Linked DNA regions of Homo sapiens: all the other regions are linked to region 2. The links come from fine-mapping of genetic effects on gene expression. A gene starts in region 2. Each other region holds a variant in brackets. All regions are shown on one strand. Distances are between the middles of the regions. Region 1 overlaps IQCK (IQ motif containing K). Region 2 holds the start of GPRC5B (G protein-coupled receptor class C group 5 member B). Region 3 overlaps VPS35L (VPS35 endosomal protein sorting factor like).

What was found. PIP is the estimated chance that this variant, and not a neighbour inherited with it, causes the effect.
Region 1: its variant is fine-mapped to the expression of GPRC5B in whole blood (INTERVAL, PIP above 0.99).
Region 3: its variant is fine-mapped to the expression of GPRC5B in whole blood (TOPMed, PIP above 0.99). The same link has a PIP of 0.9 or more in blood mononuclear cells.

The regions. Positions count from the first base shown.
Region 1 is chr16:19,739,430-19,742,273 of GRCh38, reverse strand. All of the region lies in intron 4 of IQCK (IQ motif containing K), which reads right to left. Among named protein-coding and RNA genes, the nearest start is that of IQCK, 23 kb to the right of the region's middle. The variant G/A (reference allele first, on the strand shown) is at 1,690.
Region 2 is chr16:19,883,504-19,886,003 of GRCh38, reverse strand. GPRC5B (G protein-coupled receptor class C group 5 member B) reads left to right here and starts at 1,156. Exons shown (of 4, transcript NM_016235.3): 1 at 1,156-1,277. RefSeq lists a silencer at 603-897 and an enhancer at 2,413-2,500.
Region 3 is chr16:19,695,104-19,697,603 of GRCh38, reverse strand. All of the region lies in intron 29 of VPS35L (VPS35 endosomal protein sorting factor like), which reads right to left. Among named protein-coding and RNA genes, the nearest start is that of KNOP1, 22 kb to the left of the region's middle. The variant C/T (reference allele first, on the strand shown) is at 1,076.

The DNA.
Region 1 (2,844 bases), 140 kb after region 2:
TTGTAGCATTCAAAATACTGAACTTCCTGGCAAAGCGTGAGAAGCAGAGGAGGAGGAAGTTAACATTCCTTGGGTCTGGAAGTATCATTCATTACTTCCCCTCTTCCGCCCAATGACAGGAGCAGGTCTGCTGTCCTTTCAATAGTTGAGGAAACTGAGGCTCACGGATTACTTAGGGCCATGCTGCAAGGAAGCAGTCTAGCAGGATTTTGAACTCCCGTGTGCCTGCCTTTCAAGCTTCTCCACTCTTATAAGTGAACAAGTTTGTTGTTGTTTTTGTTGTTTTTGAGACTCAGTCTCACTCTGTCACCCAGGTTGGACTGCAGTGATGAGATCTTGGCTCACTGCAAGCTCTGCCTCCCAGGTTCAAGCAAGTCTCCTGACTCAGCCTCCCAAGTAGCTGAAATTACAGGTGCCTGCAACCACACCTGGCTAATTTTGGTATTTTTAGTAGAGACGGGATTTCACCATGTTGCCCAGGCTGGTCTCGAACTCCTGGGTTCAAGCAATCCTCCCGCCTCGGCCTCTCTAAGTGGTGGGATTACAGGCATGAACCACCATGCCTGGCCACATATGAACAGTTTTAACAACCCACATTTTCTACATTGCTTTATCATTCATTATACAATTTAAACTTTAATGCTCTGTTCAAGCACCCTGGAGCATCTGACATCTAGACTGTTTTCATTTAGTCTCAGGAGTAGCTCATCTGTAGGATGTCAACAATGAAATATGAGTTGGCACAAGGATGCCTCATTAATCTCTAATATAATTAGAAATTTATCTGGTTCTTTCAAAGCATTTTATCACTGCTTACAGGCTGGAAACTGTTTCTAGCCCCCTTGTTACAAAATTATTTATGGTCAAATATTAGATATGCAACCTTCATGTAAAATCTTAATTACTGCCCTTTTAGCTGATTTTTGTGCCCTCTGAAAGGGTATAAATTAGAAGAATAATGGCCAAGTAAATTAGAATAAAGGTTGCACAATGGAATATACATGCACCAAGGTCTAGAAATGAATCCCCAGCTACAGATCCACTGTAGCCATTTCTCCTTATTCATTCTTATTTCAGAGGAGTGAAAAAAACAGACACAAGGGGAAGAAAAATAAAAACAACTTTAGTTCATCATTATGGCTCCTCTAGGACAGGACCATGTCTTCTTGTCCCCTCAGTGTGCCCTGGGGTCTGGCCTCATGATCAGCACACAGCAGGGCTTAATGAATGTTTGTTGAACAGAACCAAACATGGGCGACTCATCCTGCTTCATCCTGCTTGTAGATATTCTTTTTTTTTTTTTTTTTAGATGGAGTCTCGCTCTGTTGCCCAGGCTGGAGTGCAGTGGCACGATCTTGGCTCACTGCAACCTCTGCCTCTCGGATTCAAGCCATTCTCCTGCCTCAGCCTCCCGAGTAGCTGGGACTCAGGCACCTGCCACCACGCCCGGCTAATTTTTGTATTTTTAGTAGAGATGGGGTTTCACCATGTTGGCCAGGCTGGTCTCAAACTCCTGACTGCATGATCCACATGCCTCAGCCTCCCAAAGGGCTGGCATTACAGGCATGACCCACCGTGCCCGGCCAGATATTCTTTACATGTATGAAAACAAAGATTATTCCACTGTGCTCATTTCATTGTTTGATCATTATATTCCATCCTTTGTTCAATCGAATAAAAAGACACAGT[G/A]CACTCAATATACTTTGGTCAACAGCAAGATAGGAAAAAGTGATACAATTGCTGAAATGTGACTCGTGAGGTGCTCTTCCTCACTTAGCAGCAGAACAGAAGGCAGAGGGACAAAGCCATCTGACAATGGTGTGGCCAGGCTGAAGGTCTGCTCTGGGACCACTCTTCAACCCAGCCTCACTCCCCTTCCATTCAGCCACACCTTGCACCTGTTTAACACCACGGGATACCTACCAACTGTATCACACCACAATTTGATACAATTTCTGATGATGATCATAGCAGTAGTCAAAACACAGATGATGGGGGAAGGTCAGTTATGAGTAGTGGACAAGAATTAAATTGTCAGGAAAAGCCAAGTGAGCAAATGAAAAAACAGATAAGAATTAGAAGCCGTTTAAATTTGATAACTGAAGGCAAGTAAGCAGTCTGTTCTTCAGAAAATAGCTATGAATGAAAAAAAATCAGTATCTCTGGGAGCTATTTTGAGGACAGCCTCCAACTCCCATTTACTAGGAGGGATGGAAACCCAGGCTTCAGGATCATCTGGGCCTTGGTTGGAGATGTGTGCTGTCTGTTGCTTACTAGGTGACCTTGAGTAATGCTCAACTTCTCTGTGTCCCAGGGCCATCCTTGGTAAAAGGGAGGTGATGAAAAAGAAGATCTGGTTCAGAAGGTTATTGTAAGGGTGAAACAAGATGGTGCATAGGATGCCAGTGCTGACGCACAACGGGCAATAAATCAATGAGAGGGCTCCTCTTTTTTTTTTTGAGACAGGGTCTCACTCTGTCAACCAAGCTGGAGTGCAGTGGCGCCATCATGGTTCACTGCAGACTCAACTTCCAGGGTTCAAGTGATTCTCCCACCTCAGCCTCCCAAGTAACTGGAACCACAGGCATGTGCCACCATGCCCAGCTAATTTTCGTATTTTTTGTAGAGATGGGGTTTTGGCATGTTACCCAGGGTGGTCTCAAACTCCTAAGCTCCAGTGATCCACACGCCTCAGCCTCCCAAGGTGCTGGGATTATAGGCATGAGCCACCACACTGGGTCTTCTCTGACTTTTGATATAATTTCTGATGATTATCATACCAGTACTCAAACCACAGGTGACAGGAGAGCAATTACCTGGATTTAATCATCAGTACCTGAATCA
Region 2 (2,500 bases):
TTGGGGGGCGCACCGCGGAGGGAGAAAGGAAATCTCACCCTGAGAATCTGGAGTGCAGGGAAGGGATGCTGCTCAAAGGTCTGTTTCTGGCTTTGGCGGGGGGCCACCTGAGACTGCCAGGGTTTGATGGTCTGAAGGTCACCCAGGGAACCAGCCCCATATGGGGTGCCGGAGCGCAGCTCCCAGGCCTGGTCGAAGCAATGCGACCTCGGAGAGGCCTGAGGACTAGGACGGGGTGAGGGGGACTCAGAGACGGCTGCCCCGGACCCCTCCTTCAAGCAGGTCCCACGGCCGCCCAGCGGACACGCGTCCGGGCTGTGCCCTGACCGTCTGCGGAGCGCACGGCCAGTGGCCCGGGCCGCTGAGTGTGTGAGCCCTGAAGGGCAGTGGACATGTGCGTACGTGGGTGATGTGTGCGGTAGGGGTGGTGGCGATCCTGCGTAGGGACCCACGTGAGGGGTGCACCGACTGGACGTGTGTGTTTCGAGGGGCCAAGGAAGCGGGTGTTGGTCCCAGTGTGCGTAAACGGACAACGACATCTGGGAGTTGGGCAGTGAGGAGAGAGAAGAGTGTGTCCAGGAGGAACCTGCCTGGAGGAGGCCTAGCGGTGTGTGTGCGCCTAGGTGTATACCGGGGCGTTGGTGACTTCGAGAGGCACCGGGCGGGATCGATCCTCTCTGCGTCCTGGACCTGGTGCTGGTGTGTTTCGGGGAAGTTACTGCTTATGAACCCCCCTTGGAGCGTGGCCTGGGGGCAGGAAGGCTTCCGCGCTGGGACCCCTGGGTCGCGATACCTCCCTCGGTAAGTGTATTGGCTAGGGGAGTGTTCCCGCAAATGGATCTACCCTGGGGAGTTGCCCGGCTCGTCTGGACTGCTTACGGGCGCACTGACGTTGTGGGGGGAATGTCCCCGAATTGGGGGCACGAGGTCGGGGGAATCGTCTCTGAGATCCGGGCTAGAAGCTACGAGCTTGGGCTCCGGGGGTGCATGCAGACGGCGCCTAGCCCCGCGCGGAACCGCCGGCGGGACCGGGGGTGGGGCTCGGAGGCCCGGGGGCGGGGCCGGCCGGGGGCGGGGGCGGGGGCGGGGCCGCGGCCGCTGCAGCAGCGCGGGCCGGGCCAGGGGGCGCCTCGCGCGGCAGCGACTCTGGCAGGCGCTGCAGTGAAGCTGGACCCGCAGGCGGGCGTGCGTGGAGCGGGGGCCGCGGCCGCGCCGCAGAGATGTGACTCGGGCCGAAGGCCAGCTGGAGCGTCGGCGCTGCGGGGCCGCGGGGGTCGGTAAGTGCGAGCTGCGCCGATGCAGTGGAGGACGCTGTGGGGACCCCAGAAACTTTTCCCGCCGTGGATTTGGGAGAATTGGGGGGTCCGCTTCTTGTGTTTTTCTAAGCGCCCCCCCAACCCAAGCCAGGGAGTTTATTGCTGGGGGAGATGTGGAATCTGGGCGAGGGGAACCACGGTGCGACGAGAGCAGAGCCGTAGAGGGGTGGGCGGGGGAGGGGAGGATCTGGGGACCTTTACGGGGGGAGGGAGACTGTGCCCGGACCAGGTAGAGATCCAAGTCTCCCAGGAGGGTGTGGGGGCGACCACAGGTGAAGGGCAGCTGGGAGGGTAAAGGAGCCCAGCCGTGTCCTAGTGACTCGTCATGTGTGAGGAGCTGCGGGCTGGTCCTGGGGCCGCGTTGGGGGCTGACTGTGGACAGGGCAGACGCAGCCGGGGGCACAAGGGCTGGACTTTGGGGGTGAACAGCCGCACCTGTCGCGGGGGCTGGGGGTCAAGCCCGCAGCCGGCTTGAGTGCGCATTACTCAGCAAGGGGAGGGGGGGACACGGCGGTGGGAGATGGCAGAGCTGAGACCTGGGCTGGGGACGAATGACGGGGAGGGGTGGGGAGGAGGGGGCGGCTGCATACAATGGCGGGGGGGGCAGTGGCGTTTCCCTTCCAGACAGGGGGCACTTGGACCTCTGGAAGAGGCGGCTAGGCTGGAGATAAGGACTAGACCTGTTCTCGGTCCCCTCTCCTTGGGGGACACAGGCTTCCAGCCCCACAAGGACCCCACACATCCCGGGGTCCCTAGCGCTTAGGCCGAAAAGGGAGCGCGCGGGAGGAGCCCGCACCCGCCTTGGCCCCGGGCAGCCGGTTGAACAGCCTGGGAAGGGGCCAACGACCTTGCCCCAGAAATCTCCCCCGTGCAGCGGGTTCACTCCTCCGTCCTTGCTCTGTCACACCCAGGCCTAGCCAGTCCTCCCTTTCCGTCCCCCGTTCGCTAAGGGGGCGGCTCCTTGGAGCGCGGACAAAGGCCCCTGGAGTGTGGCGGGCAGCGGCGTCCCCGCCTGGGGCCCCAGCCCACGCGCCACATTGGCCGCCCAACTGCACCAGGCCGGGGGGCACCTGAACAGAGCCCAGAAAGCCCTGGGGGACCCCGCAAAGACAAGAGAAGTGGGGGAGGGATCTGGCACAAAAACCCCGGCACTTCAGCCAAGGAACCTTCTTAATTCAGAAGTT
Region 3 (2,500 bases), 190 kb after region 2:
TTCACATGGCGCCTGCGAGCTGCTATGCCAACTGATTTACCCCTTCTTACTGTCCTTTCCCAAGTGAGAATTTAAAGTCTTTTAGTGAAAAGAAAAAAAAAATTAGCTGAGCATGGTAGCACACACCTATTGTCCCAGCTACTCAGGAGGCTGAGGCTGGAGGATCACTTGAGGGCAAGAGTTTGAGGCTGCAGTGAGCTATGATCTCACCGCACTCAAGCCTGGGCATCAGAGCAAGACCCTGTCTTAAAGAAAAAGTCAAGGAACAGCTTCAAATGCAGTTGGGCAAGGTGGCTGAGTGGTAATTAAGACTCTTCGGCACCTCCCCTCCCCACTCCGGGCAAAATTGAGCCTGCCTTGGCAACAGCCTAGAGCAGCGACAGTCACAGAAGCAGCAGAGCCGACGGCAAAGAGCCCAATCATCAGGGAGCAGGTTGTGCTGTGGGCGCCCAGGCCCGCGGGCTACAAGAGAAAAGCGCTTTGGCACAGGGCACGCGGGCTGGCACCTGCTGGGCACGGACTCGCAAACTGGCTGGCGACCACCTGCTCTGCCTTCATTTGTTCTAACAGACAATGCAGTTATGCCCCAAGTGGGAACCTGAGCCCATCCTGCTCTCCTTTTAACCTGGTCCTCGTCTGACACCTGGGAGAACGGGAGCCCCACTTTCTGCCTGAATCTACAAGACCAAGCTAAAATAAAACTCTTTCAGAGCTAACTAAAAGTCTCCTTGGAGAGAGGCCCTTTGACTACCTTTCACTGAAGTGGGAGAAACTGTTTTAAAAGTCAGACAAGCAGCACAATACCTAATTGGCTATTTCTCCATTCCATATCTTCTCAATTAGCAAAAAGCTCAATTCGCATGTGTTTTAAATGCCAAAGCCCATTAAAAGTGAAATCATTGGAGACGTGTCTGAGGGATGAGACACATGCCAGCTGATATATTCAAACACCGAGAAAAATACAAACACGTAGCTTGGGAACCAAATCAGGGCCTGATCCCCTCCCCTCGCCACAGAGGTTTTAAATAGAAAAGAGCTGCTTTTCCTATGAGAACTGTCATTTCCAGGAAGCTCT[C/T]GGGGTTTGGCATGGTTCCCAGCTCCACCACACCCAAACAAACAACTTCATAAAATACAGCTTGTGATTAAAATGAGGCTGGCACCTTCACGTGGCCTTAGAGGATGACTTTGGAAGCACGGTTGCTACCAGAGCTGCGATATGATTCTCAGAACGGCACAGGCATCAGGGTTTTCCAACAGCAAGAAGCCGCCCACCCCACTCAGTGGGGAGAAATCCACCAGGCCCTTCCTGGTCTGTGATGGGCCTGGATACCAAGCCTCATGCTCTTGGGGTACCAGACTTCAGAGGACTCCAGTATGGCTGTTGAGCTGAACTTCAAATTGCACCATTAAAACAAAGGATAGCCGGGCACGGTGGCTTATGCCTGTAATCCCAGTACTTTGGGAAGCTGAGGCGGGCGCATCATGAGGTCAGGAGATCGAGACCATCCTGGCTAACAGTGAAACCCCGTCTCTACTAGAAATACAAAAAATTAGCTAGGTGTGGTGGCACGCGCCTGTAGTCCCAGCTACTCGGAAGCCTGAGGCAGGAGAATCACTTGAATCTGGGAGGTGGAGGTTGCAGTCAGCTGAAATTGTGCCACTACACTCCAGTCTGGGCAACAGAGCAAGACTGTCTCAAAAAAAAAATAAAATAAAAGAAGGATAACATGTTCAGTTTCAGCTTGGTCCACCCATATGACCATGTTTTTATTTATTTATTTATTTTAGAGACAGGGTCTTGCTCTGCTGCCAGGGTTGGAGTGTAGTGGTGCAATCACAGCTCACTGCAGCCTCAAACTCCTGGGCTCAAGCGATCCTCCCACCTCAGCCTCCTGAGTAGTCCCAGCTACTCAGGGTGCACACCACCATGCCTGGCTAACTTTTAAAATTTTTTTAGAGATGGGGTTTTACTATGTTCCCCAGGCTGGTCTCAAACTCCTGGAATAAAGCAATCCTCCTTCCCCAGCCTCCCAAAGTGTTGGGATTACAGGCATGAGCCACCATGCCTGACCGATGTTTTTCTAATAAATGTGCACATATGGACAGACATTTTCAGTGAACATCGCTGGTATTGATGCCACGTGAAATGTTCTTCAGAAACATTCCATCTTTGCTATTCTTTCAGAATCACTATCACCATCAACCCCTCTCTCCACCAGAGAAAGAGACATAAATGTTAAATATAAATAGCTCCAAATTATATGGTTCTGGGCTTTATTTTTCTTGCAAGCTTGGGACTTCTGGGCTATGATCATTTATGCTGTCAGTGACCACCTCTGATTAAACCCAGCCTATTGCCTCGGTATGAAGACACGTAATTTTGAACCACATGTCAAGTGTTCTGTGGGTGTGGCTTGTCAAACACACATCATTGTTCTAAGAGGTCCCTGGACTAGAGGGCGGAGCCAGAACCAATGGTTTCAAGAAATCAGGGGAAGGC